4 linked regions of the Homo sapiens genome follow. The protein of the gene in region 4 purifies or fractionates together with the protein of the main gene of each other region. This does not show direct contact. Each region holds a gene or a part of one and is shown on either strand. Other genes may lie near its edges.

Region 1 (7,005 bases), on a different chromosome or scaffold from region 4:
AAGGTAGAGAATAGGCAGAATTGCTTATAAAGCACGGAGTGTGTGTGTGTGCATGAAATAAATAAGAAAAATATAAAAATATAAAAAATGGTGTGGGGGAGGGTTTGGAAAGATTTTTTGGGTAGTATAGAGAAGTTTATTGTGGCTGGGGTCAAGAGAGGTCACAAGTAATACGTGAGCAATGAATCTTGACTGAAATATGGGAAGATAAGAGGAAATTCTTTACAGAGATGTTCTGGGGCAAGTAAGAGGAGGAAGCTATTTCTTGGAGCAGGAACACTTGATGGGGTATAGTATTATGGGCTACAATGTGCAGGCAAAGGAAGGAGGAAGAAAGACAACATAACATTGTCTTGAGTAATCATTATGCCTTTAATTGAGCACATTATTTTCTCAGTAATTGTTGGAGTTTAATCGTAGCATTACCCTTGAGGCTATGTCTTAGGGTTGAGGTCTTCCCTAGAACCTCTGCAGTGCCAGTATTATCTTTGTATCAAGAGTTCTTGATAATTTCTGCTCTTTGGAGGTAGAAGTGTCACCCATTAATGCCTTGTACGGTTCCCTTGCTTTTCTCTTTTCCCATGTACTCTTTGTAAAATAAACAAGTGCTCCCTATCTGTAGAGCCTCAGGAACCTTCTTACACACCTGGACAAAAAAATGAAATAAGTGAAATTAATCAGGAAGTTGAGCTGAACATTCTTTATTAGGCAGAAGCCATACCCTTGAAGTAGGCATTGTGTTCCCAAGTTCAGAAAATAGAATCTAGGGAAATAGGGTCTTCTTATGGTTATCAGGAAACAGTCCAGGATCTCAATGGTACTTGTGAGCCAGGGCATTAGCCACACCAGCCACCACCTTCTGATAGGCAGCCTGCATTTGTGGGGTGAATTCCTTGCCAAAGTTGCGGGCCAGCACACACACCAGCACATTGCCCAAGAGCTGCGGAGAAGAGGTAGGCAGATACATGCATATGGTTAACAGAGAAATAAAGACTGGCTTCTGAGAAACTGAGCCAACACCCATTTTTTTCTGCCCAAATCTTAGACAAAACTGATCCCCAGGTTATTCCCATCAGCATAAATAAGTACATATATGAATGCATACATATAACATATATCTATACACACACATCCTCTATGTACTTAACTAGCATGTAGTCTATATATGTACATATATGCTATATATGCTGTATAATACTATATACAAATTAATTCCAAATTAGTTTTAATTTTGTATGTGTATATAGCATATACAAATTAATTACTATAAACAGATTAATAGATACAAATTAATTGATTAATCAGTGTGATGATGGGCTGTCTCCTAGCAACGACTTCTGCCCCACCTCCAGTGTAACTGCCTAGTCTTTCATAATCAAATATTCACTTTCCTTTCCATTCCATTTACTACAGAATTTATAAAATTCCAATTATTCCTTATTGTAAAATGATTTATAGCCTCTAAAACAGTATTCTATGCCTCTCATCTTTGAGTTGGAGCCTCTCCCATACCCATGTGGAGAGACAAAAGGATTATTCTAAGTGCAGAATTAGCAGGTGAGAGCTGGTATGCATAATTTGAGTTGTTGTTAGAGAAGGAAAAATGAAGGGAGGGGGTTGGGAGAGAAAGACAGGATATTAAATAATTTAAAATAGCAAGATTGTGAGGAAGGAAAAAATGCAGAATATTTAAATAAAAAATTAACAAAATTTTAGAAGCATTAAATGATAAAATATAGTAAAATGACAAAAATGTGGGAGAAGAGCAGGTAGGTAAAAGAACCAAAATGTAAGATTAGAAAGTAAAAAGAGAAAAGTGAAGCATCTCCTGGACTCACCCTGAAGTTCTCAGGATCCACGTGCAGCTTGTCACAGTGCAGCTCACTCAGCTGAGAAAAAGTGCCCTTGAGGTTGTCCAGGTGAGCCAGGCCATCACTAAAGGCACCTAGCACCTTCTTGCCATGAGCCTTCACCTTAGGGTTGCCCATAACAGCATCAGGAGAGGACAGATCCCCAAAGGACTCAAAGAACCTCTGGGTCCAAGGGTAGACCACCAGTAATCTGAGGGTAGGAAAACAGCCCAAGGGACAGAGAGTCAGTGCCTATCAGAAACCCAAGAGTCTTCTCTGTCTACACATGCCCAGTTTCCATTTGCCTCCTTGAGCCTCTCTTATAACCTTGATACCAACCTGCCCAGGGCCTCACCACCAACTGCATCCACGTTCACTTTGCCCCACAGGGCATTGACAGCAGTCTTCTCCTCAGGAGTCAGATGCACCATGGTGTCTGTTTGAGGTTGCTAGTGAACACTGTTATGTCAGAAGAAAGTGTAAGCAACAGTCGACTCTGCCCTGCCTTTTATGCTGGTCCTGTCCTCCCTGCTCCAGTGAGCAGGTTGGTTTAAGATAAGCAGGGTTTCATTAGTTTGTGAGAATGAAAAATGAACCTTCATTCCACTATTCCCTTAACTTGCCCTGAGATTGGCTGTTCTGTCATGTGTGTCTTGACTCAGAAACCCTGTTCTCCTCTACATATCTCCCCACCGCATCTCTTTCAGCAGTTGTTTCTAAAAATATCCTCCTAGTTTCATTTTTGCAGAAGTGTTTTAGGCTAATATAGTGGAATGTATCTTAGAGTTTAACTTATTTGTTTCTGTCACTTTATACTAAGAAAACTTATCTAAAAGCAGATGTTTTAACAAGTTGACTCAATATAAAGTTCTTCTTTGCCTCTAGAGATTTTTGTCTCCAAGGGAATTTTGAGAGGTTGGAATGGACAAATCTATTGCTGCAGTTTAAACTTGCTTGCTTCCTCCTTCTTTTGGTAAATTCTTCCTATAATAAAACTCTAATTTTTTATTATATTGAAATAAATATCCATTAAAAGAATATTTAAAAAATGAATAGTGTTTATTTACCAGTTATTGAAATAGGTTCTGGAAACATGAATTTTAAGGTTAACATTTTAATGACAGATAAAATCAAATATTATATACAAATATTTTGAATGTTTAAAATTATGGTATGACTAAAGAAAGAATGCAAAGTGAAAAGTAGATTTACCATATTCAGCCAGATTAAATTTAACGAAGTTCCTGGGAATATGCTAGTACAGAACATTTTTACAGATGTGTTCTTAAAAAAAAATGTGGAATTAGACCCAGGAATGAAGATCCCAGTAGTTTTTCACTCTTTTCTGAATTCAAATAATGCCACAATGGCAGACAAATACACACCCATGAGCATATCCAAAAGGAAGGATTGAAGGAAAGAGGAGGAAGAAATGGAGAAAGGAAGGAAGGAAGAGGGGAAGAGAGAGGATGGAAGGGATGGAGGAGAAGAAGGAAAAATAAATAATGGAGAGGAGAGGAGAAAAAAGGAGGGGAGAGGAGAGGAGAAGGGATAGGGAAGAGAAAGAGAAAGGGAAGGGAAGAGAGGAAAGAAGAGAAGAGGAGAGAAAAGAAACGAAGAGAGGGGAAGGGAAGGAAAAAAAAGAGGAAAAAAGAGACAAGAGAAGAGATAAGACTGACAGTTCAAATTTTGGTGGTGATATGGATCAATAGAAACTCAAACTCTGTTGGTGACACTGTACAATAGTATAACCCCTTTGGAAAACCTTTAATAGTATCCACAAATGCTGGATGCTTGATAAGTCTATTACCTAGCAATTACATTTTTAGATATTCAGAAACACATGCATGTGTGTATCCAAAGACATGTATAGAAATGCTTATGACAGCAATAATCATAAAAACCTCAAACCGGTAGCCACTTAAATGCTTACCAACAGTAGAATTGATAAATTACGGTATAGTCAAAGAATAGAATATTACACAGAAATGAAAAGAATCAACTACTGCTTAACACGTAGCGATACAAATGCATTTTACAGCATTTGGTTGATTAAAAGTAACCAGAGGTGAGTTCAAACTATATGACTTTATTTGTATATAGAAAGATGGATGATGTGCCTGAGATTCTGATCACAAGGGGAAATGTTATAAAATAGGGTAGAGAGGAGCCATGAATGACCTTTAAACTTTGTTACAAGTTATTTTTCTGTAACCTGGAAGCCAACGAAAGATATTGAATAATTCAAGAAAGGTGGTGGCATGGTTTGATTTGTGTCTTTAAAAGATTATTCTCACTTAGTGAAGAAATGTATTTTAGAAGTAGAGAAAATGGGAGACAAATAGCTGGGCTTCTGTTGCAGTAGGGAAGAAAGTGACAATGCCATTTCTATTATCAGACTTGGACCATGACGGTGATGTCAGTCGTGAACACAAGAATAGGGCCACATTTGTGAGTTTAGTGGTACGATAAAATCAGAAATACAGTCTTGGATACATTGTATTGTATGCACTCTTGTAAAATGCAAAAAGATGTACTTAGATATGTGGATCTGGAGCTCAGAAAGAATACAACCAGGTCAAGAATACAGAATGGAACAGAACATACAAGAACAGATCATAATGTGCTGTGTGAATCACTACCACTACCTGTTAAAAATGACAGATGATGTACTTCATCAATATCTCCTTAAAATCTTAGAATGTGTTTGTGAGGGAGGAATTATGTTTCCAATTCATATATAAGAAAATTGATTCTAAAAAAAATGTTAGGTAAATTCTTAAGGCCATGAGGACTGTTATTTGATCTTTGTCTGTTAATTCCAAAGACTTGGCTTTTCACTTTAATTCTGTTCTACCTGAAATGATTTTACACATTGGGAGATCTGGTTACATGTTTATTCTATATGGATTGCATTGAGAGGATTTGTATAACAGAATAAGGTCTTTTTTTCTTTTCTCTTCTGAGATGGAGTTTCATCCCTATTGCCCAAGCTAGAGTGCAATGGTGCAATCTAGGCTCACCGCAACCTCTGCCTCCTGGGTTCAAGCAATTCTCCTGCCTCAGCCACCTGAATAGCTGGGACTGCAGGCATGCACCACACGCCCGGCTGATTTTGTATTTTTAGTAGAGATGGGGTTTCACCATGTTGGTCAGGCTGGTCTTGAACTCCTGACCTCAAGTGATCTGCCTGCCTTGGCCTCCCAAAGTGCTGGGTTTACAAGCCTGAGCCACCGCATCCAGCCAGGATAAGGTCTAAAAGTGGAAAGAATAGCATCTACTCTTGTTCAGGAAACAATGAGGACCTGACTGGGCAGTAAGAGTGGTGATTAATAGATAGGGACAAATTGAAGCAGAATCGAACTGTTGATTAGAGGTAGGGAAATGATTTTAATCTGTGACCTTGGTGAATGGGCAAGTAGCTATCTAATGACTAAAATGGAAAACACTGGAAGAGAAACAGTTTTAGTATAACAAGTGAAATACCCATGCTGAGTCTGAGGTGCCTATAGGACATCTATATAAATAAGCCCAGTACATTGTTTGATATATGGGTTTGGCACTGAGGTTGGAGGTCAGAGGTTAGAAATCAGAGTTGGGAATTGGGATTATACAGGCTGTATTTAAGAGTTTAGATATAACTGTGAATCCAAGAGTGTGATGAATACAAAGTTAAATGAAGGACCTTTAATGAACACCAACATTTAATGTGAAATCTCAAGGAAGTATGAAGTAAGACATAGTCCCCAAAATCCCCGATGATTTTAGAACTCAGTATCGATTTTAATTAGTGTAATGCCAATGTGGGTTAGAATGGAAGTCAACTTGCTGTTGGTTTCAGAGCAGGTAGGAGATAAGGTTCTAGATTTTGACACAGTGAAAAGCTGAAACAAAAAGGAAAAGGTAGGGTGAAAGATGGGAAATGTATGTAAGGAGGATGAGCCACATGGTATGGGAGGTATACTAAGGACTCTAGGGTCAGAGAAATATGGGTTATATCCTTCTACAAAATTCACATTCTTGGCTGGGTGTGGTGGCTCACGCCTGTGATCCCAGCACTTTCAGAGGCCGAGGAGGGTGGATCACCTGATGTTAGGAGTTCGAGATCAGCCTGACCAACATGGTGAAACCCCCTATCTACTAAAAATAGAAAATTAGCCAGGCATGGTGGTGGCACATGCCTGTAGTGCCAGCTACTTGGGAGGCTGAGGCAGGAGAATCGCTTGAACCTGGGAGGCAGATGTTGCAGTGAGCCTGGATCATGCCATTGCACTCCAGCCTGGGCAACCATAGCAATGCTCTATCTCAGAAAAAAAAAAAAAAAGTTCTTGCTAACCTGAAAAAATAAATTATTTGAGCTTTGTACCTAATTCATAATTTTCAGATAATGAATATTGAGATGATATATGCACAGAACAATGCCTAGAGACACATTCTAAGTGTGACATTCTTAAATGCCAGTGCTCTCCACAATTCTAATCTCAGTTCACTGCTGTTTGAATTCTGTGTTTTCATATTATCTTATCAATACATTAATCATTGCAATAATCACTGCACACTGTAATTATTCATTTACTGGACACATCCTAGTTTCCTTCTGTCAATTACCATTCATGTCTGCTTTCACATTTATTTCTCATCCTTCCCTCAGTGTTCTCTGTATTTGAGGAACTGACATTTCCCAGGTTTCCTCACCCTTTCAGTCGCATGTACATTCTGCAATGGTAAACACTGGCTGAGGGAAAGCATAAGCAAGATTATTTCTGGTCTCTCTCTCTCTCTGAACGGATCTCCTACAGCAGACAGTCTTTTTTATGGTTTTTTATGGCTGATACTTTGATGCCCCCATTAGACAGTTCTGGCTCTCTCCAAGGAGCACCCACTAGCTCACTGAATCCAGTGGACCTCTGGTTATGGGCTCTGGTTCTGGACTCTGGTGGTATAAACATTTTCTCCTTCTGCCCTTCTAGGCCTAATGGCGGAAGAGGTTTTCTGATGTTACTAACATCTAGATTTCTGCACTGTCCTTTATTTGATATTTTAGCTCTTCCAATACAAGGATAATTAACTATTAAGAGCTGTATTTAATTCTAGGTTGAGTAACTGATAATGGTTTGTCCTTTCCTTGATGGACCCTAACTGATATAACTAATAA
Region 2 (7,509 bases), on a different chromosome or scaffold from region 4:
CCCAATTTAATAATAACTTTTTCATAGAACTTTTCAGGGATTCTTCTATAGAGGATTTGAGCAACATCTCCCATTTAAAAAATCAATTGAATATTCTTTGTAAGAAAAAATTCTCTTACTATTTCTTTCCTAATGAGATATTAAATTGATAAATTTCTGAATCTATGATTTCAGGTTTCCTTATTAATATTTAATAATATTTCTTTCCTGATGAGACATTAAATTAATAAATTTCAGAATCTATGATGTAGGAAATTTAGAGGAAAGGGAATTTGGAAGAGCTGGAAAATAGAAATTCCTTTTTCCCTGTGAACACATTTCTATCTCACCTCCACCTGAAACTCATTTCTCTCTTTAAGAGGGAAAAGCAGAGATAAAACCAAGCAATAAAATACTAGGGAACTATTTGTTCACCTGTAGTCATCGGTTAAATGGAAACTTTAAAATAAGAAATTCTAAAATATATGTTGCCTTATTTCCTTCTATTTTGAGGTCTAATTGGTAAGACAGTGGAAGCAGAGCTGTGTAATTATCTGTAACTCACCTTCATCAAAACACCAATAACTGCCAAACCATCAGCCTTTGAGGCAGCTTCAGCAAGGCTGGAGTACTTTGCAGAATTCCAGTGAGCTACGTGAAGCTAAAAATGATACTATGGTTAATTAATTATTTATACCAGTGTGATGAAAAAAGATAAGTTATAAGTTAACTTGTTACCATATGATGATGTATCTTGGCTTAGATACATAAAACTTATGTGAACCTTTATCCAGTGGATTAGAAGAGTTACATTCTCACTCGTAGGAAGGGTTATCTGTGTGCCAGGTAGAGATTACAAAACCTGGAACCAGTAAGCAAAATGTCCTTTCCTACGATATTGTTATTTAATATTACTCCTTTAAATGTATCTCTCTTTGTTTTGAAAAGATCAGGAAATATGACTAACTAGTTTTTGGGAAAATAATTGAAGTAATTTTCTCTCACATGAGGTACTTTATAGTAAATTTATGAGAAAGGGTTCCTGGAGTTCCTGGGAGTCTTGGCCAAGAACAGATTCTTTCAGGCACGTTCGTGCCCTTTCCAAACATCTCTCAAATAAATATCTCCAGCTTAACGTCTCTGCAAACTCTAGATTTGTACATCCAAGTATGTATATATGTATTCTTGATATATTCTTGATATCTCTACATGGATGTCTAATAGATGTTTCAGACTTAATCTGGCCAAAATAGAACTCTAGATTTCCTTCTTGCCAAACCTGCTTAATTTTACCTTCTTAGGATAAGGTTTTTAAATGCTCAATCAATAAGTACAACAACTATCATTCATTTCTTGCTTTCCCCACCTATCAACATTCACATCTTACAGGTTATACTTCGTCACATGTTCACAACTTTGAGCCTTTGCATTAGCTTCTAATTTTCTCTGGAATTTCCTTCCCCATGATCTTCAAATGGCAGACTTTTGTCTTGAATTAGGGTTGAACTCAAATGCCACTCCTTAAATAATTCTTTCCTGATCATCCAATATAAAGTAACCACCACAAATCAAAACAGTTCTATCCATATCACTTATTTAATCTCTCTTCTTCCTATTCTCCTCCCTCCCTTCCTCCCTCCCTCCCTTCCTTCCTCCCTCCCTTCCTTCCTTCCTCCCTCCCTTCTTTCCTGCCTTCCTTCCTCTGAAATTTTTATTTTCCCTATCAAATGCAAGTTCTGATAGCAAGTACTTTTTAAAAACAGTATCTCACGCCTGTAATTCCAGCACTTTGGGAGGCCGAGGCGGGCGGATCACGAGGTCAGGAGTTCGAGATCAGCCTGACCAACGTGGTAAAACTCCATCTCTACTAAAAATACAAAATTAGCCGGGTGTGGTGGCACATGCCTGTAATCCCAGCTACTCAGGAGGCCGGGGCAGGAGAATCACTTGAACCTGAGAGGAGGAGGTTGCAGTAAGCCGAGATCGTGCCTCTGGACTCCAGCCTGGGCAACAGAGCAAGACTCTTTCTCAAAAATAAATAAATAAATAACGACAAAAAATAAAGACAGTATCTGGCATATTGTAGGTGTCCAGTGAATATTTGTTGAATGAAAAAAGAATGATTAAGACAGTATATTAAGAGGGATCACTTATTGCAATTTCCTCTGACCATGCCAGTGTAGATTCTGTCCCTACTTGTAATTAATTATTCTTACATCTGTATTCCTATGCTTCTTTGTGAATAGTCATACTGCCATTTGCTACTATATTTATTTAATCACAATAATTTATGCCTATACTTCCCTGCTTGAAAAATGTTTGCTTGTGTCTCTACGGAAATGTTAAGTAACATTATTCAGCACATGCAACATGAAAGGTGCTGGTCTAAGTGTGCTCTGTATGGGTTAACTCTTTTCATGCTGTCAACAATTATTAAGATAGATACTAATGCTATATTATCTAGATTCTCTATATAGGAATACTGGAGCGTAGAGTGATTTGTTTGAATTTGTACAGCTAGTAAGTGGTCGAGCTTTGATTCAAACCCTGGCAGTCAGCTGGGTACTTGCATTCTTAAGCAACAGGCTGCATTGCCTCTCAAACCTATTGTCTTATAGGTATCTCAAGAAGGTTTATTGAACTGAATTTAATCATATGCTAAACTTTGTGGCTAAGTGTCTCTCAATATCTAGCATGGATTATATTGATTTTTCTCAATTTAGATGAGAGAGTCACTAATTTAGTTTTCTTGGATACTACCAACTATCCTTCCAAAAAGATAATACTAATTTAGGCTCTTAGTCCATTTAATTTTAATCTACCTTCAATTTTATGGAGGGGAAAACCCAATTAACAGATTTCTGCAGCATTGAAAGGTGTTAGTCATGCTTTACAACACAAGGTAAAGCAAGTTTTATTTGTATACAATCTGCTGATGTTCTATCAGAATAGAAGATACATATACTTTGTAACGTAGCAGTCTGCCCTGGAAAAATCTATCGTACATAATTACTTTCACTAGTGCACAAGATATATGTACAGATATATTCACTGAAGCATTTTTTAATAAAAGCAAAAGAAACCAATATAACAAAAATCATATGTTGTGATTGTTCATCAATAGAAGGCAGTTAAATAAATTCTGATGCATTCACCCAAATGAAATACTATGCTGACAGTAAAAAAGGTGGAATTCAATCTTCTGATTTTTAAAAATTGTCATGATAAGTGGGTAAATAGAAAAAAAGCAGGTTGCAAAATTATATATATTATAGAATTCATTTGATGAAAGTAAAATTAAAAAGTCAACCTGCATATATGGGTACACATGTATTATATAATTCATACACCTAAAATAAAGAGCAAAATTTCTCACATTTTAATCTCCCAGACCCTCTGCTGAGAGTTTGGTGTACATGTCTCCATTTTTCTTTGGATATACAGATAATAATGTCCTGAAATAAGTCACAAACTTCCATGTGAGAGCAGGTTAAGAGCCAGGGAAGGTTAGACCCTCATCTAGGTGTATGCTGTTCTGTGACCATTGCTGTGGTTAAATTCGAGCTCTTAGTAGAGTCTCATTGAATTGTCCTGGCTTGGCCACAACGATACTGCTGGTGTATCCAAACTTGAACGTTTAAATAAAGAGGAAATGATGGTGTGTTCCATTTGGGGTTACAGCTTTAAAGGAGGAGCAGTGTCATCCTTTGAAGCTAGCTTTGATATCAAGGTAACAGCTTTTGAGGCATTCTCAGGGAAAGGTGAATCTTGGGCTCAGGAGTTTAGCTGCCTCTTTCCACATGAAAATTTTCTCTCTCTTGCCAAACATTATGTGTCTGTGCTTGATTTTAATGGAAACTGGGAGTTCCTTACTGGAATACCCATTCCTTTGGAGTCATTATGATGTTGTCTTAGAAAAGAAGGGAGAAGCTGCTTCTGGGAGTACTCTCAGGGTAATTATCTCTCACTTACTAAATTACATTACCTCGGCAGAATATTTGACTCCATCCACTGTATGTTCTGAACCATGCTCATTTGTACTGCCCCAGTGAAAATGGAACTGAAAGAGCCTGTAGCTGTCAGAGAAAGGACCACCTTTCAGCACTGGAAGAAAAGGGAACCGATTGTTAGCCTGATGCTCCACAAACTCTAGCTTATCTTTGCATTTAATATAAACCAACACTAAATTGTATTGAGTAGAAGTGAAAACAAACATTAGTGCCTAAACTTTCATCTTGTTTTCCCCCACATCCATGAGGATGACAGTCATATGTATGGTGCACCCCTGACTGTGGCATTGATGAGCTATTCCATGAATTATACACATTTCCCAGCCACACGAGCTACAATTTTACCTATTTCTAACTCCTAGAAAGCATATTGCAATGTGAGTGAATTATATCATTACAGGGCTGTCCTTGAATCTCCTTTAATTTGCAAGTTTATTCCTTCATTCTTTCAACAAAGACAGTATGCATCAAAAATCTTTAGTAGTTTATTTTGAGTAATGAACCATTCATCACCTACTGTGTAACTGATGAAGACACAAAAGTATATCTTGACAGCTTTGTTGAGAATCCCTGGCCAGGGACCAAGAGAGAGTACCAGTGGGGCAGTGGGGCACTTATAAAACTTTGTTTGGAGAGCCTATCCAATGATAATATTAGTTAAATGCATATAATACCAGACCTAATCTAATATTAATAATGGACATAGTCCCAAGGTGCCTAAAATTTAGGCCTCAGAAACTCATAAACAAATTTAGCATTTTAAATCAGTAGAACTGTTTTATGGAATTGTCATTTAATAAAATATTCAATAAACCTTCATGAAAAGCTAACTCTGTAGCAAAATTTGTTCTAGATTCTGGAGTATAAGGATAATTCAGTCACTGCTTTGTTTTTCTTTTCTACTGTGCTCATTCATACTCATCCCAATTAGAAAATATTTTTCTTTTTAGTTGTTATATTTGTAATGACTGGTTCACTAGACCTTTCTGGATAAATGCTGTTTATTCAGAGACAGTGAAGTGAGCATACAGATACTGGAATGACGAGAAGAGACGTGATGGTGACTTTGAGAAGCAAGACTGAAAATAGAGAGCTGGGAGTTCCAAAAATTGTCTTTACCACCTGGGCGTTTTCCAGAAGTCCAAGATGCCTCACTAGATTACAGCAATGCTGCACACAAGCACAAAAGACTTAGAATGGGTGTCATATTTCTCGAGCACTATTTTTTAAATTTTCCCAGTAGACTGTAAGAAAAAAATATCAGAAGGGTCTTTCAGCTCACCTGATCGGTTATCGTTGTCCTCAAAATTTACATGGAAGGAATGCCCCACATTGATAATTTCTTTGGCTGTGGCTGGGTTGTAGGAGACACTAATAGGTTTCAGAGAGGTGTCATGTTTGGTTTCACTGGTTTTAATATCAACAGGGGACTGGTTATTTCCATTGGCAATGGGATACAGCTTGCTCCATTGTTCAGGACCTACCAGGACAAACACGTGTAAAATCAATGTCTTATCAAATGCTTGATTCCAAGTTTTAGGAGTATAGTTACCTGTTTGCTTATTAGATTAGGGTTTATTTCAGTGTATTAAATGATATTCTCTTAAGATTAATAGAAATTCTGTGTTTGAAGATGTCCCTTTTCTTTCTTTCTTTCCTTCTTTTTCTTTCTTTCTTTCTTTCTTTCTTTCTTTCTTTCTTTCTTTCTTTCTTTCCTTCTTTCTCTCTCTCTCTTTCTTTCTCTCTCTTTTTTTTTTTTTTTTTGACAGAGTCTTGCTCTGTCACCCAGGCTGGAGTGCAGTGATGCGCTCTTGGCTCACTGCAACCTCTGCCTCCCAAGCTCAAGCGATTCTCATGCGTGAGCTTCCCAAGTAGCTGGGATTACAGGAGCATGCCACCATGCCTGGCCAATTTTTTTGTATTTTTAGTAGAGATGGGGTTTCATCATGTTGTCCAGGCTTGTCTCGAACTCCTGACTTCAAGTGATCCACCTGCCTTGGTCTCCCAAAGTGCTGGGATTACAAGCATGAGCCACTGCACCCGGCCCCTTTTCTATATTGTACTATAAAATAGTGTATTTGTCAATACTACTAATATAGATCTATACTCATAGTCTATAGAATCAGACCATACATATTTTATTATTAGCAATAGATTTCTAATACAAGCTTAACTCATTTTATTGCGCTTCACTTTATTGTTCTTTGCAGATATTGCATTTTTTACAAACTGAAGATTTGTAGCAACCTTGCATCAAGCAAGCTTATTAGGGGCATATTTTCAACAGCATGTGTTTATTTCACGTCTCTGTGTCACATTTTGGTAATTCTCACAATATTTTAAACTTTTTAATTGTTCATATATCTATCATGGAGATCTTTGATGTTACTATTATAATAGTGTTGTGGCACCATAAACCATGTCCAAGTAAGATGATGAACTTAATCTGTAAATGTTGTGTGTGTTTTAACTACTTTACTGACTGGCTATTCCCCATCTATCTCCCTCTCTGTAAGTCTGCCTATTCCCTGAGACAAGAATATTGAAATTAATCTGTTTAATAACCCTACAATGACCTGTAAGTACTCCAGTGAGAGGAAGAGTCACATGTTTCTCACTTTAAATCAAAAGCTAGAAATGATTAAGCTCAGTGAAGAAGGCATGTCAAGAGTTGAGACAGGCCAAAAACTAGACCTCTTGTGCCAGTTAGTCAAGCCGTGAATGCAAAAGAAAAGTTCTTGGAGAAAATTAAAGGTGCTACACCAGTGCACACACAAATGATAAGAAAGCAAAGCAGCATTATTGCTGATATGGAGAAAGTTTGCATAGTCTGGATAGAAGATCAAAAACCAACAACCACATTCCCTTAAGCCGAATCCTAATGAGAGCAAGGCTATAGCTCTTTTTAATTCTGTGAAGCCTGAGAAAGGCAAAGAAGCTGCAGAAGAAAAGTTAGAAGCTAGTCGAGGTTGGTTTATGAGATTTAAAGAAAGATGCCATCTCCATAACATGAAAGTGTGAGGTGATGTGGCAAGTGCTGATACAGAAGCCGCAGACAGTTATACAGAAGATCTAGCTAAGATAACCAATGAAGGTGACTACACTAAACAACAGATTTTCAGAGCAGACAAAACAGCCTTCTTTTGGAAGGAGATAGCATCTAGGACTTTCATAGCTAGAGAGGAGAAGTCAATGCATGGTTTCAAAGTTTTAAAAACAGCCTGACTCTTTTGTTAGGGTCAAATGCAACTGTTGACTTTAAGTTGAAGCCAACACTCATTTAACATTCTGAAAATCCTAGGACCCTTAAGAATTATACTCAATCTACTCTGCCTGTGCTCTGTAAAAGGAACAACAAAGCCTGAATGACAGCACATCTATTTACAGCCTGGTTTACTGACTATTTTCAAGCCCACTGTTGAGCTCTACTCCTCAGTAAAAGAAGATTCCTTTCAAAATATCACTGCTCATTGACAGTGCACCTGGTCACCCAGGAGCTCTGATGGAGATGTACAAGGAG
Region 3 (7,509 bases), on a different chromosome or scaffold from region 4:
AGAGATAGGACAGGAAAGGACAGGACAGGAAACCATGAGATAAAATTTCAAGAGTAAGATATCAAATAGTTGCCACAGTTCATAAAATATCAATAAAACAAACAAGCCTCCTTTATAACCTATAAACCACCAAACTTACCTGTTTAGAGAGTAGAAATAAAGAACACTGTTAACTTTTTATATTTTCCTTCTTTCAATTTAACATTGCATCATCATAAGCATTTTTGGGGTTCCCCTTAGTCTTTACAAGTACCATCTGAAAGCCTACATAATACTTTTTTAAATTAAATGTAACTATCGCTTTCTTAACCATTGTCTTGCAGGCCATTTAAACTATTAATCCTAATAAATATGTTATCTCACTCCACAGTTGTCAGCAATGGATTTTTTTTTTTTTTTTAATATTTTCCTGGCCGGGTGCGGTGGCTCATGCCTGTAATCTCAGCACTTTGGGAGGCAGAGGCAGGAGGATCAGCTGAGGTCAGGAGTTCGAGACGAGCCTGACCACATGGAGAAGCCCCGTCTCTACTAAGATTACAAAAAAATTAGCCAGACGTGTTGGTGCATGCCTGTAATCCCAGCTACTCGGGAGGCTGAGGCAGGAGAATCACTTGAACCTGGGAGGCGGAGGTTGCGGTGAGCTGAGATCACGCCATTGCATTCCAGCCCGGGCAACAAGAGTGAAACTCTGTCTCAAAAAAAAAAAAAAAAATTGTCCTAGTAAGTAAAAAATTGCTCCACATAACTAAGAAAGTTGAACCTGTATCTATGTCTACCTATAAACTGTGTTTATCTTTTATTATGAACTGTGCATTGACATCAACTTATCAACTGAGGATCTGAATTCTTCTTCCAAACTATATACGAGATATTTTATCTGACCTTAATCTATCTCCTTCAAATTTTAAGAAATGCTTTCTATTTCTAGTGACAGAGTTTATGAAAAAGTCCATGTTTGCTCCATCTAAACTTTCCTAGGTTATCTTAATGGGTATGTTTGAAATGCAGAGTTATTGAATGATTGTCAGTTTCATAAAAAATTTTGTCTTAATTATCATGTTATCACCATTATGTCAATTTTTAAAATTGTAAAGACATTACCTTTTCCTCATTTGTTGCAGAAGAATCTGGATCTTTTCTTTTCTTCTTCAATTTTTTATCTTTACTTTGTTTTGTGCTAGAAGTCGGATAAGGTTGCAAATCTACTCGAGAATGAAACTGATAACGACCACTTTCCACATCACAATAGTAATAAATTCCAGTGGAAGGATCATAATAGAGTTGATTTTCCTTTGAAAGTCAAGAAAAAAATAAATTCTATTCATGTAAGATAAAATAAACTTAACGAAAATGCCAAATACATTCAAATGTGGTAAATATTTCTTTGAACAACTATAGTATTTTCAGAAGACAATGAATTAAAGATAACAATAAAAAATGCTTTAATCTTCCAAAATACTTTACCATTCAATAACTGATCTAATTTTCCTAGTGTGAGAAACAAGTAAATCTAAATATTAAATTTAATCATATAAAATTGTCAATACTTGACCACTTTTAACTTATAAGAAACAGCAATTTCATATGGTTCCACTTAATACATTAAAAAAATTGATAATACTTTTAAAGGCATGAAAACTAAAGCAAGCATAAGAAAAAGCTGACCATATGAGCGCAATTCTAGACTCCTGATTCTTAATGACTGCACAATAATGGTGTGGCAGTATAAACCCCTAAACCCTCCTCTCAATGTCATAAAACAAAGATTTGTCTTTTGATGTTCATAACTTAAAATTAGAGAAGAAAATTTTGAAAATAAAGTTCATGCATACCAAAAAATAACATTCTATAAAATGCAATCAATAAACTGTCTCCACTAATTAATCAGTTCTATAGTAAATAAGACTTACAAGCAACCATGCATAAATGAATTTGGCAAATTACAGATTTAAAAACCAGAAAGATAAAATTAGGTAATCACCTATATTTATGATATACTGGCCAGTACTCTAAAACCAAATTTAATTGAACAGTCTATATTTTATTTACATCCTAAATCCATGCAGACCAGACCCGGAAACATCTTTAATGTACTGAGATTGAGCAACTAAAACTTCCTGAAAAAGAATAATTTATTTTTCTAACTATTGACACTTGCAATTTATTGTCTTTAATCCATGCATTTTGCAGATCTCTTACAAAAAATATTTAGATTTCTCACCATCTTTCTCTTAACTAAGAAACTGAGTGGAGGCTTTCCAATCTTTATTTCTAGTAATAATGGAACTTTTATAATTCAAACCTTTTAAATCTGTTTATCAGTCCAAAATATAGACATTTTCAAAATATAAAAAAAATTTATTAAAATATTAGCACAATGAAAATGGCAACACAATGAAGTTCCTAATTTACTCAGAAATATAACCTGCAGAACGTACTAACCATTTACAAAACAACTGATGTCAAGAGAAAAGATACAGAAAGACAGGCAGAAGATTGACAAAGACTAATGTCTACTTGAAACTATTGTTTTCCTAGAAACTAAATAACTACTCCCTTTGGATAAGTGTTTAAACATTAATTTCCTGGTTATTAATTAGCATTGTCAATTAGCAACCCCCATGAAAGAAAACCCTCTCTTTACAAAGGACTTACAGTTTACCATATGCAGATTGACAAACTAATGACACCTCTTATGTTAATTGAGATATTTAGTATTATCTTATGTTCTCTAGATAACAATAGTTCCAGTAACAGGAATGATGAACGTCAACTCCACTTTTGTGTACCACATTCTATAATTCCTCAGAAAACCAGATTACATTACTAGATTCTTGAGTTTGAGGTATGTGACTGAGTTCTATCATTGTCATCAAATCTTCAACGAAATATAATTATTAGACTTCAACAGCTATAACACTGTATTATAAATCAAGAACTTTATTTTCTGGTTCTATCCTAGTCAGTGGTCCATTATATTTTAGATCCCATATTAATTCCCTAGTTCTCATTGCTAACAGATTGATTTTTGTTTGCTTGTTTTTTGAGACAGGGTCTCACTCTGTCACCTAGTCTGGAGGGCAGTGGTGCAATCATGGCTCACTGCAGCCTCCATCTTCCCAGCTCAAGCGACGCTCCCACATCAGCCTCCTGAGTAGCTGGGACTAGAGGGTGAGCCACTACATCCAGCTGACTTTTAAAATTTTTTATAGAAAGAGTCTCACTGTGTTGCCCAGGCTGGTCTTGCACTCGACTCAAGCAATCCACCTGCCTCAGCCTCCTAAAGTGCTAGGATTACAAGGAGTGAGCCACCATGCCTAGCCAACAGACTGAATGTTTAAAGTGAAATAGTTAAAAGGCACAGGATATAAAACACTGGCTAATAATAAACATACTACTAAGAATTCAAGAAAGAAGTCTCCTTATGTGGCCTAAAATGAATTCATAAAGTATTTGATATAATTTTTAAAATTCTCATTCCAAGCCTAAAATTAACCTCACTTCTCTATTAATTCTATGAAAAAAATACTGGTTTAGGTTCTAAAATATTTACGATGTAGTTAACTATCTGCTTTTATTAACAAAAGCTCCAGTATTTTTGTCTGTTATTTTTATACATAAAGACTTCTCCAAAACATTGTCTATAATAATCACAATAAAATTTATTTTAACCTTAACCTTATTTTAAAAACTTAGAAGTGTAGCATCATAAGCTATTTTAGAATTCTTCTGTCAAATAGTTTTGAGTCAAATATAATTTTAAATGCAGCTTTTTGCTTTCTTACTTCGGCTTAGGGTTTAATATTTGATATCAGGCACTGAGTATGTATCATACAGTATTAAAAGGTCTGAGATGTAATTCGAGACCAGCCTGGCCGACATGGCGAAACCCTGCCTCTACTAAAAATACAAAAAATTAGCAGGGTGTGGTGGTGCATGCCTGTAATCCCAGCTACTTGGGATGCTGAGACATAAGAATCACTTGAACCTGGGGGGTGAAAGTTGCAGTGAGCTGAGATCACTCCACTGCACTCCAGCCGGGGTGACAGAGGGAGACTGTCTCAAAAACAAAACAAAACAAAAAGGTCTGAGATACTTACAGAATCATAATAGAAACCAGTGCTGTGGTCAAAATACAGTCCAGTATTTTCATCATAACTAAATCCAGTCTGTGATACAGCCGCTTCTGCTGCAGCTCTCAAACTTTCAGCTAATGATGAGCCTTCTAAGGAGGTATCTTCTGTTGCTAATGCAGATGCTGGCTCCTATAAAAGATATAGTCATGCCAAATAAGACAAAAGCTTCTGTATATCAATTAAAAAGTTGGCTGAACTCAAGACCTGAGACTATGTTTAAGTAACGACTTCAATTTCTACAAAGGAAAAGCATGACTATCAATTATGACTTGAACCACTTATTACAACATTTACTAGTGTGTCAGTAACTTCAACTTTGACCCAGTTTTGAAGGCACTAAAAATGAGTGACAATTATTCGAGAATAAATGTATGATGCCACAGGGAAGCCATCCACAAAATACAGACCCTGAAATATTGGCTAAGACAAAGATCTAGGTTCTTCAATGATTATATGTTCAATTGGAAAAAAAATTTCAAAAAGACAAATGAAGGAGAAAACTGTAGATTAAATGAGATATATCAAACACAATAGGGATCCTAATTCAAACAAACTATAAAAACAAATTTATAGATTCAGGGAAATTTGAATAGTGGCAGGGTATCTGACATAAAGGAACATTAAAATTTTTTTAGGTGTAAATGTGGTATTGTTGTCCACAGTTCTTTTGTTCAGTCAAAATATCTGGACAAATTTTGTTTTAGTTTATGTAGATCACAAAATTTTGGAACACAATGTAGTAGGAAAACCACTACATATATGAAGAAGTTCTAATTCTGGTTTTGGAAAAACTACAACATTCTTTGCATAATTACACATAAGAATGTTTATAACCCTTATATATGCTGTGACGGACCAAAGAAGTCTATCTTTCCACATAATAACAACAAAGAAGGACAGGTTCTTGGGCATCAACAGTTTCATGTTTAGCATTTTATTACCTGTGAATTTGAGGCAAAATGGTCCACTTGTCTATATTTAACATTTTCTGTTCTATCGGTACCAGGGTAAGCATCATTTTCTACTTGTAAATGGTCTTTAGAATTCAAAATAGAAGTTTCGATAGCTTGATCTTGTTGATCTGACAGTTCAGTCACTTTATTTGGAAGACTAACGTCATTGTAGTACGTCTGATAAAAATAATCTGTAGCAAAAAAATGAAGTGAAATCGTATCATATTAGAATAATGTATATAAAAAGGACTTAACTACAAAACACTGGCATTTAAACACAAAAAGCACATACTTCAAATAAATCATGATTTTTACAACTGTACAAATTTTAAAAGATTAAAACAGATGGCACAGATAAATCTGCAGAAGTGTGTATCTTTGATTCTAATGTCTCCTTCAAGACCCTAGCTGTCAGTTAAAAAGAAAAAAAAAAGGTAAGTTGGTTACATTTTCTACAGCAAGAGTAAAATAAAAATCTGTAGATAGGTTGTGTTCTATTTAAAAAACTTAACTCTTAACTTCTAACTGGATACCTTAATACTGTTGCTTATCAACTGATAATGAAATAAAGGCAAGGAATTAGGGATTGATTTATTTTTTGGCAAATTTCTCTCCCCATGCAGACTTTTTAAAACGTATCATGCAGATAAGAAAAGTTAGCACTATTGCTATGTTTAGCAATTTAGCCAAAAATTATGTCCTGACTGAAGCAAGGCAAAACTTAATAGGAAAGATGATTTCTTCTTGTGACACATATATATTAAAACTCAGTATCTCAGCTATTTTGCCTTATAACATAATGCCATTCATAAGGCCATGGTGGTGGGCTCACCATTCCCACAAGGGTGAGAGACTGATACTATACATAATTCTAATTAGAACACATCAACAAGAAAACAAATGCCCCTGGTCACAAGGAAGGCAGATATGGAAGTAGATGGCTAACTGCCTGCCAAAAATTACTCAGTGAGTGTGCCACTGAAAACATTAGCAACATTATAGAAATCACAGGAATGACAATACATTTCTACTTTTTCCTCCAGAAGAACAAATTGATTATCCGAAAATACCATTATCATATGGAGAGACGTCAACAGTATTAACAATTCTCATTTACCTTGATCTTTGTTTATTTTAAATTAAAAGAAAACGCAACATTAGCATGATTTGAATGTAACAGTGTTAGCATATCCTCACTATAAGCTAAATACCTGAGATTGACCAAGGAGCATGGTTCTCTGTTTGTACTTCTACATCAGACTTTTTATTATCTTCATTTCTCCCACGTTGGAGTATTTTACTGAGTTCTTCCACCTGAGAGAAAACAAGGCTTTAGGAAAAAGAAATCATGTAACAATCTAATAATATATATACCAGTCTCCTACCGTTACAAATAATTGTTTTAGAGAAATGTCAAGAGCAGCAAGTTTCCCTTTCAGAAAAGCTAAAATTATTATTTTACTTTATACATTTAAAAGGCATTTTTATTCCTAATCTCTCTTACTAAATGTCCAAATATCTCCTCCAAAAATCGAACTAAATAATGAGACTTTGTGAACAAGGTCCTTTATTTCTAACAAATAAGAATGCTTTTATGTTAACATTTTAAAGTCAGTTCTAAAGAATTCAAAAATTCAAAATTTACAAATTCTCATCCCTACTGGATTATCTAATACTCATTTGGTATTCTCCACTGGGAATTAACTATCCACCTGAATATGTTAATGCCACTTACAAGCTTTAATACATTTTTTCATTAAACAGTAGTCCTATAATTAAGTAACTGTAGCAGAAGAGAACAGGGAAGGTGACGGCCTGAGAGGGGCATCTGTCCTCCATGTACTTCACACACTAAAATACCCTTAAAAGGATGCTACTACATAGGACAGAGAGAAACAAGTGTGTGGAAGTGCCCAAAAGCAAGTAACATGCTGCCTCGGTCAATACGCTGCCTCAGTCAATACACCTCAGCCTGAGAGGACCTCAATGTGAGACAATGTCTACTACACACAAGAAACCAACTAAAAAACAAGCTTTTAAATATTTATTTAATGATACATAAAGCTTAAACAGAGAAAGGTGATAAAACTGATCTGTTGCTAATACTAGGGCAGGAACTACAGTGAGGGAAGCAAGACACTGATCGTGAAAAATCTGAGGCGCTCCTCTGATTCATGCAAGTACAGAGTTCATCGCTGGGAATTAGTGCCCCATTAAATTCCTCGCCCTAGGAGCCTGATTGCCTTGCCCTAAATCCTGGCTCTGGCTACTGTCCCTATCACTATGAATTAGATTACTTAGTATCTACTACATGCTGGGCACTATACTTGATGCTTTAGATAACATCTCATTAATTCACAAAACCACCTGAAATATTCGTTGTCCTAACCCCAATTTTACACATAAAATATCAGACAAGA
Region 4 (8,162 bases):
AATTTGTTGTCCAGCTTAATGGTGGTTTTGGTGGAAGAACCAATTAATCCCTGAAGCTTCCTGCCCTGCCGTTTTCTGTGACGTCACTGCTGTCTTAAAACTATAACTAAATATTAGTCATATTAAAAAAAAACTATAGGCTGGGCGCAGTGGCTCACGCCTGTAATCCTAGCACTATGGGAGGCTGAGGCGGGCGGATCACGAGGTCAGGAGATTGAGACCCTCCTGGCTAACACGGTGAAACCCCGTCTCTACTAAAAATACAAAAAATTAGCCGGGTGTAGTGGTGGGTGCCTGTAGTCCCAGCTACTCAGGAGGCTGAGACAGGAGAATGGTGTGAACCTGGGAGGCGGAGCCTGCAGTGAGCTGAGATTGCGCCACTGCACTCCAGCCTGGGTGACAGAGCGAGACTCCATCTCAAAAAAAAAAAAAAACAAAAAACACAACTATAGCTAAATAATAGTCATATAAAATAAATTGCAGTACTTATCAAATTTCAGTTTAACTTTTGAAAGTCATAGTATTTAAGGTAACAAACTCAGCTATTAACACATTTTATGATGCTTTAAAAAGCTCAAAGAATTGAACAGCTATTGGTGCTAAGTTATAATTGTGTTCTATAAAATAAATGTGATTCACTATTCTTTGTAATTGCTACCTCCTGGTATGTATAAGATAAAGAAATTGAATTTTACCTATTTTCTCACATACTAATTTGGTGACGTATCCTTTTAACTGTTGGCAAATGTTATAGGCTCTCTTGGCCTGTTTTTTATTCCATTATTTTAACATCTTTTGCAGTTTTCTCACATAAGATTGAAAACTGAATCTATGTGAAATAAGCAGGTGTCTATCAGTAATGATATTTAAAATATGTCACAGCTGGATTCCCTGTTTTGTAGGAGCATCTGAAATCAGCCATAGCGGAACAGATGGAAATGCCCCATTTGTTGGGGTCAAGAAGGAAAAGTTCTTACATAGTTTTACACATTTGGCTGGTGATTGATTTTGTGAAAAGATATGTTAAAATTTGTTTGTTTTTTGAGACGGAGGCTCACTGTGTTGCCCTGGCTGGAGTGCAGTGGCGTGATATCGGCTCACTGCAACCTCTGCCTCTCGGACTCAAGCAATCCTCCTGTCTCAGCCTACTGAGTAGCTGGGATTACAGGCTCCTGCCACCACACCCAGCTAATTTTTGTATTTTTAGTAGAGACGGGGTTTCACCATGTTGGCCAGGCTGATCTCAAACTCCTGACGTCAAATGATGCACCTGCTTCAGCTTCTGAAAGTGCTGGGATTACAGGCTTGAGCCACAGCGCCCGGTCTGAAAAGATACGTTTAAAAATTTTATTTTAAAAAGGTGCTACAAGACAATTCTACTAAATCTCTAATCTTTAAACTTTTTTTTAACCTCTTCACTGAGATTAGGAAAAGAATCTTGATATGACTCCTAGGTGATAACTGTATAAACAGACAACACCCCCACTCTTCATCATTCTAATAAAGAGAGAGGATTATATGCTTCATTTGTTTAAAGTCCTTTATTCAAACTCTCCTACTACTAACATCAGAGGACATGTTACTCTACTTTTTCATAAAAACAAACTTGTGTAGTTATTAGAAAGCATCTATTCACGGCATCATTAACAAATTAGGCATTATACAGAAGTGAATTTTCCAGGCAACTGAGGTGCTGCCTTAAACACAAAACTTTTTATCTTAACCTATCTGAAGTGTATTCCCTGTATTTCTACCTTCTGAAGCAGAACAATGATAGCATTCATTTCTTGAGGATCCCCAGGTGTTAACTCTAGTAAATCTTTTAAGGAGGGCTTTGTTCCCCTTCATACTGATGAGGGTCTAGCACTGTTGTATGGTGCATTGAAGACTAGCATTCAGACCCCATCCTGTCTCCATTCATCATGGTGAAAGTCAGGTATCGCGCTGGAAGTTAATGCAGTAATACATTTAGAGACCATGAGTTACCCCACGCTAAATTAGACTCAAACTAATGCGTTTTCATGTTTTCATTTTTAAATGGCTTTTCTGTCTCTCTGTCAGGCATCATGTATGCCTCCCCTGTCTTGAGTTGGGGCTAAAAAATCAAGTGACTGAACTTAAGGTAATTATTTTTAAAACAACTAAAATGAAAGTATTATATTAATAAAGTGCTGAGTTTTTTACATTTATTTTTCCTGCCAGAGCAAAAAAAAAAAAAAAACCATTTAGTTTTCTCATTGATCACTGTTAGAATTTTTCTGGTTTCTGTAAGTGAATGTCAAAAGGTTCAGACACTTGAGTAAGCTGTAATTCGGATCAGCAGCAGTGTTAACACCAGTGTTTAGGCCTCTGAGAGTAAAAACAATGTGTCGTACTGCCAAGTATTGTTCCTGTTACTACCCAATTCTTCAGTATCTCAGGACACAGTTTATCCTAAAAAGGTGTCCTGTTTGCTAACTACAGTGGCTGTGTTATCGTTAAAGGAAATACTGGGAAGTGTTACGGTCACCAGCTTCAAGTCACTGTCATCTACCAATGAGATAGGGGCTACCAAGTAAAATGTAGCCCAGGGCCACATTCACAGATGGAAGTGTTCAGTTAAGCAAAAGTAAAGTTACATACTAAAAGCCCACATGAAGAAGGATTTGGAGATATTTCTTCCTGCTTTGCTTTGGCTGTAAAGTTCTGTACATGTATCAAACAGAGCATTTCAACAGGCTGGCTAATGTGTAGGAAGCTAGCTTTTCTTTGTGATATAATTTGTCATGTAAAATCATAAGCTATTTTACAAGTGTATTTCATTCACTGTATCTTAAAATTCATATGGTTTTATTTAAAGATAATTTCATCAAACAGCTGAATTCTAAAATCCTACCTTTTTTTCAAAATCATTTTTCAGAACTTTGCAATAACAGGAAGTAAAGAATCAGAAGGGTGTTAAAAAATTGACTTGGGGGGAAAAACATTTGGACATTTTGCTGGCTAGGTTTACGAAATATACACATCCAGCAAACATGTGAGTCCCTTTAGGGTACAGTGCAGTGAAGGGAGAAGTGGAAATACTCAAGGTTCTGGGGAAGGTCAAATGAAGGGTCCCTCACATTGGCTGAGGCCAACCTGGCTTCAGAGGTGTGCAGAGGCACCAGGCCGAGAACAGGGCTTTGCAGTGGTGAGGGCAAAACATGAACACAAGAAATACCCTAAGTTACTGACCTGGTTGTGCCTGGTGACAGATGGGACCAGCTCTTTTCTCCATTTGGTAATTTTGGAAAATTTGGCAGAGTTAATAAAGAAATCCCCTTGGTGCAAGATTGCTACAATAAGAATCTATTATAGATGGCAGATGTGAAGTTCACAGTCCTTTTTATTATCCTAACCTAGTAACATGACTAGAGGTAAAATTAAATATTGAGTTAGATGATTGTTTAATATTTTAAAACCAGAGGGAAGACATACAAATAGATTGAGAGCAGTTTCTTTCTAAAGATAATCAGAATATATCTCCTATATTTTAAACACTGCAGGAACAGTCAAAATTTTAAAATAAATGGTTTCCACATTTTTTTATCCCCATCTCTCCCCCTGACTATATAGTAAAATATTTTATTTGGCAACCACGTTTTCCTACTTTTAATCACACATCATCAGAGCTTTTCATCAGCCTAACTAGTCTTCCTACTCACTGAGTTGTGACGAAAGCCTGGTCTAGGCACTTTTACCACGGCCATGTTTTTGTTAAGATCCCTGCAGACTGTGAACTATGAAAACCAGCCCCTGGCCCCGCTTGTGGGTGCTGCAGAGCCGCGTGTGAACTGCTCCTAGGAAACCGCGTCTCTGGGCAGGGTGGCTCTCGGGCCGTGGATCCGCCTAAAAGCTTTTCTGCCAGTGACGCCCTTGGTCTCTGGATGTGTTCACGCCTCAGTGATTTTACTCTCTGGTTTCTTGTGTGTGCTTGAGATTCTTGAGAGAAAGCGTGCTGCAGATGAAAAATGCAGCCTACATGAAAAAGAGAAGGGGAAAGCCATTTTAAAATAACTTCCATGTAAGTTACTGTAATCAAAGTGCTGCTGCCTGTGTGTTCATAAAAAAATATGTGCAAGGGCCCGGAGCGGTGGCTCATGCCTGTAATCCCAGCACTTTGGGAGGCCGAGGTGGGCGGATCACTTGAGGTCAGGAGTTACCGAGACCATCCTGGCCAACAAGGTGAAACCCCGTCTCTACTTTAAAAAAACAAAAAAATTAGCCAGGGGTGGTGGCGCGTGCCTGTAGGTCCCAGCCACTCAGGAGGCTGAGGCAGAGGCTGCAGTGAGCCGAGATCGCGCCACTGCACTCCGGTCTGGGCGACAGAGCGAGACTGTCTCCAAAAAAATTAAGAATTCAAATGTGAACCCGGCTTTCATGGCGCCCCGGCCACGGAGAGCCTGGGGGAGTGGGATAAAAACGGTGCTGGGATGGGAGGGCGGCTTGTCCGCGAACTCCTCCCACCACGCCCGGACCAAAGCCGCCGGCGCCCCGCTTCCGGGGCCGCCCTAAACCGCGGCCGCCGCTCCCTGAGGGGCCGCCTGACCCGGCGGAAAGCCAGGCTGTGTGGCCGGAGGTCACCACCCCGACCCCGACTAGTCCCGCAGCGCCTGACCCCTTCGTGGGCGGCCCCGACCGCCGCGGCTCGAGGAGGGGCGGGGCTGGGGCGGCCGAGCTCTCGCGAGGTTTCGTCGGGGGCTGGCGGCTGCGGCTCGGCGGAGAGTGCGGCATGCGCTCGGAAAAGGAGGGGGCCGGAGGCCTTCGGGCGGCCGTTGCCGCGCGGGGCCCGAGCGGGAGGGAGAAGCTGTCGGCCCTAGAAGTGCAGTTCCACCGCGACTCGCAGCAGCAGGAGGCTGAGACGCCGCCAACTTCGTCCTCCGGTTGCGGGGGCGGTGCGGGCAAACCTCGCGAGGAGAAGAGGACGGCCCTGAGCAAGGTGGGGACGGGGGCGGGGCGCGCAAACCTCGCGAGGAGAGGACGGCCCTGAGTGGAGGGAGGGGAGGGAGGGGAGGGAGGGGCGGGGGCCGGGCCTCCCAGCGCGGTACGCGGTGCCTTTTGAGCTCCTTGTCCACGCTCCGCCCCGGTGGGAACGGCCGCGCGCTCCCCGCAGGTGGTCATCCGCCGCCTGCCTCCGGGCCTCACCAAGGAGCAGCTGGAGGAGCAGCTGCGCCCGCTGCCAGCACACGACTACTTCGAGTTCTTCGCCGCCGACCTGAGGTGAGGCCCGCCCCGAGGGGAGGAAGAGAGGGCGGAACCCAGAGCTCGGCGGCGGTGGCCGTCTCGTTGCCTTACGTTCCTTACCCTGATTTCTCCTATATGGGAGTCGTGTGAGCTTTTTGAATAAATACATTTCAGTAAAACGTGTCCGTTCCGTCAAAGAAAAATACCACCAACAAAGAAACACAGATGTGGTTTACATGAAAAATGCGGATGATTTTCAGACGGCTAACGCTTAGGAAAGCGGGTGCCTTTGAAAGGACCAGCGTTGCCCGCCCGGCGCCTCCCGGGCTTCCCTGCTCGTCCGCGGACGGGGCGCTGCGGGGCCGGGGGGCGCCGGCTCTTCCTGTGGCCTCCACGCTGGTGCCGCAGCCAGTGCGGTTTTAAATACCGGAGAAGGTCCCCAAGTCAGGAGAGTCTCTCGGCGCCACGGGTTCCTCTGGGAGTGCGCCCTGGCCTTGCCTTAGGGTTTCAGCCTCGGAGGACCGGTTCTGGGCAGTGGAGAAGGGACCTGAGTTCTGCCTTGTAAAGTTAACGTTTTGCGTTTGTTTTTGCTAAAGAATATCCAAGTTGTTACAATTAACTGAGATGATTTGGCACAAAAGTTTTATCTAAAGTAGTTTGTTGTGCCCAGAAAAGGAAAAAGAGGCTAAATTAATGGACTATTGTATTTTTCACTGACCATTTTCACTGTTATCTCTTATTTCAGTCTTTATCCTCATCTCTACTCAAGAGCATACATTAATTTTAGGAATCCTGATGACATCCTTCTTTTTAGAGATCGTTTTGATGGATATATCTTCCTTGACAGCAAAGGTTGGATTATTGGTTTTTAAAAATCTATTATAATCTGTAGGTATACTAATGAAGTATTGCTAGAATATTCGTGCTTTTTAAATTATTATTATTTTTTGAGACAGGGTCTTGCTCTGTTGCCCAGGCTGGAGTGCAGCAGCCGCAATCACGGCTCACTGCAGCCTCACACTGCGGCTCAAGCAATCCTCCAGCCTCCTAGGTAGCAGGGACCACAGGCGTGTGCCACCATGATCGGCTGATTTAAAAAAAAAATTGTGTAGAGACGGGGGTCTCACTGTGTTGCCCAGGCTGGTCTTGAACTCCTGGCTTCAAGTGATCCTCCCACCTCAGCCTCCCAAAGTGCTGGGATTACAGGCGTGAGCCACAGCATCCGGTCTATTTGTGCATTTTAATTAAAAAGTTCTCAGACTAAAATAAGTTTATAAATTTTGATTATGTTACTGTAATTATGTGCAGATATTAAAAATTGAAATTATTTAATTTTATTATTTAATCCAAAAAAATTCCAGAAATTCTGTGTAATAGTGACAGCCTATTTATGTATTATCATCAGAGAATGAAGGTTTTCATGAGTGAGTTTGTTGCATGAGAGAACTTGATCTTTTTAGGTTCTAAAGCTAAACTATTTTACCTGATAGGAATTTTCCAAAATGTACACTGACTTCTATCTTCCTAAACAGCATCCTTCATGACTGTACCATTTATGATAATGTCACCAGGAAGTCACTGCTGTTAAACAGCTTTGCCTGCGGAGACAGCAGTCTTCAACTCTACTCTCAATAGTTCCCTTATCAGTACTTCTAGGGTTCTGCTTTCATCTTTTTCCTTCTCTTCTCCTGTCAGGCTGTCTGCTGTTGTGTTCCTGGCTGTCAAGTTTGTATACCTTTCACAGCAAGTTGTTTTCTGCCCTCCCCTCCCCAGCCACCCTCTTCCGACTCCACGTGTTTTGACACTGATGAGTGTTTTCTTTTTCTCCAATGAGGGGTAAGGACTAGAAAGATTGTTAAAAAAATAAGCATTAGCCAAGCTAGTTCCTGTGACTAGAAGCAAATGTGATGCTTGAACTGACCTTTGTGTTCATTGCTCATTTATTCAGTAACTTACTGAGTTTCCCTTTTTCACTTAAAAAATATTGGTGGGCCGGGCACAGTGGCTCACACCTGTAATCCCAGCACTTTAGGAGGCCAAGGCGGGTGGATCACGAGGTCAGGAGTTCGAGACCGGCCTGAGCAACAACGTGAAACCCTGTCTCTACTAAAAATACAAAAATTAGCCAGGCATGGTGGCAGGCGCCTGTAGTCCCAGCTACTCGGAAGACTGAGACAGGAGAATTGCTTGAACCTGGGAGGCGGAGGTTGCAGTGAGCCGAGATCATGCCACTGCATCCCAGCCGGGGCGACGGAGCAAAAAAATATGTATGTGTATGTACGTGTATGTATATGTGTGTGTGTGTGTAAAATATGTGTAACATGGCCAGGTGTGATGGCTCACTCCTGTAATCCCAGCACTTTGGGAGGCCGAGGAATGTAGATCAGTTGAGGTCAGGGGTTCGAGACCAGCCTGGCCAAGATGGTGAAACCCTGTCTCTACTAAAAAAAAAAAAAAATTAGCCAGGCATCATGAGGCATGCCTGTAATCTCAGATACTTGGGAGACTGAGGCATGAGACTCACTTGAACCCGGGAGGCAGAGGTTGCAGTGAGCCAAGATCGTGTTACTACACTGTAGCCTTGGTGACAGAGTGAGACTCTGTCTCAAAAAAAAAAAAAGTCACAAAATTTATACCATACTGTTTTCCACAGTGACTGCGCCATTTTAGGTTCCCACCTGTAGTGAGCAAGGGGCCAGTCGTCCTTGTTTCCGGTTATCTTTGTTGTCGTTGTTTTGTTTTTTAGAGATGGGGTCTCACTATGTTGCCCAGGCTGGTGTCAAACTCCTGAGCTCAAGCGATTCCCCCCACATTGGCCTCCCAAAGTGCTGGGCTACAGGCGTGAGCCGCTGCCCTGCCGTTGTTTTTATGGTCTCTGGCCTAAGCCTGTGCTTTTGATGTCATATGCAACCCATTGCCAAATCCATTGCCATGGAGCTTTTCCCCTGTGTTTTTTTCCA

The links.
Region 1: the proteins of UPF3A (region 4) and HBD purify together in Homo sapiens (affinity purification with mass spectrometry; 2 studies listed by BioGRID and IntAct, with this or other methods). This does not show direct contact.
Region 2: the proteins of UPF3A (region 4) and CA1 purify together in Homo sapiens (affinity purification with mass spectrometry; 2 studies listed by BioGRID and IntAct, with this or other methods). This does not show direct contact.
Region 3: the proteins of UPF3A (region 4) and AGGF1 purify together in Homo sapiens (affinity purification with mass spectrometry; 2 studies listed by BioGRID and IntAct, with this or other methods). This does not show direct contact.

The regions. Positions count from the first base shown.
Region 1 is NC_000011.10:5,232,153-5,239,157, forward strand, and holds HBD (hemoglobin subunit delta), read right to left. Parts: upstream 2,332-7,005; 5' UTR 2,282-2,331; coding exon 2,190-2,281; intron 2,062-2,189; coding exon 1,839-2,061; intron 941-1,838; coding exon 812-940; 3' UTR 686-811; downstream 1-685. UniProt on the Homo sapiens protein: Involved in oxygen transport from the lung to the various peripheral tissues.
Region 2 is NC_000008.11:85,332,981-85,340,489, forward strand, and holds part of CA1 (carbonic anhydrase 1), read right to left. Parts: intron 5,470-7,509; coding exon 5,272-5,469; intron 4,084-5,271; coding exon 3,965-4,083; intron 641-3,964; coding exon 545-640; intron 1-544. UniProt on the Homo sapiens protein: Catalyzes the reversible hydration of carbon dioxide. Can hydrate cyanamide to urea.
Region 3 is NC_000005.10:77,033,312-77,040,820, reverse strand, and holds part of AGGF1 (angiogenic factor with G patch and FHA domains 1), read right to left. Parts: intron 6,404-7,509; coding exon 6,301-6,403; intron 5,281-6,300; coding exon 5,078-5,280; intron 4,266-5,077; coding exon 4,101-4,265; intron 1,291-4,100; coding exon 1,102-1,290; intron 1-1,101. UniProt on the Homo sapiens protein: Promotes angiogenesis and the proliferation of endothelial cells. Able to bind to endothelial cells and promote cell proliferation, suggesting that it may act in an autocrine fashion.
Region 4 is NC_000013.11:114,276,890-114,285,051, forward strand, and holds the start of UPF3A (regulator of nonsense transcripts 3A), read left to right. Parts: upstream 1-4,711; 5' UTR 4,712-4,750; coding exon 4,751-4,957; intron 4,958-5,021; exon of another isoform or gene 5,022-5,131; coding exon 5,132-5,238; intron 5,239-5,505; exon of another isoform or gene 5,506-5,763; intron 5,764-5,947; coding exon 5,948-6,054; intron 6,055-7,204; exon of another isoform or gene 7,205-7,469; intron 7,470-8,162. UniProt on the Homo sapiens protein: Involved in nonsense-mediated decay (NMD) of mRNAs containing premature stop codons by associating with the nuclear exon junction complex (EJC) and serving as link between the EJC core and NMD machinery.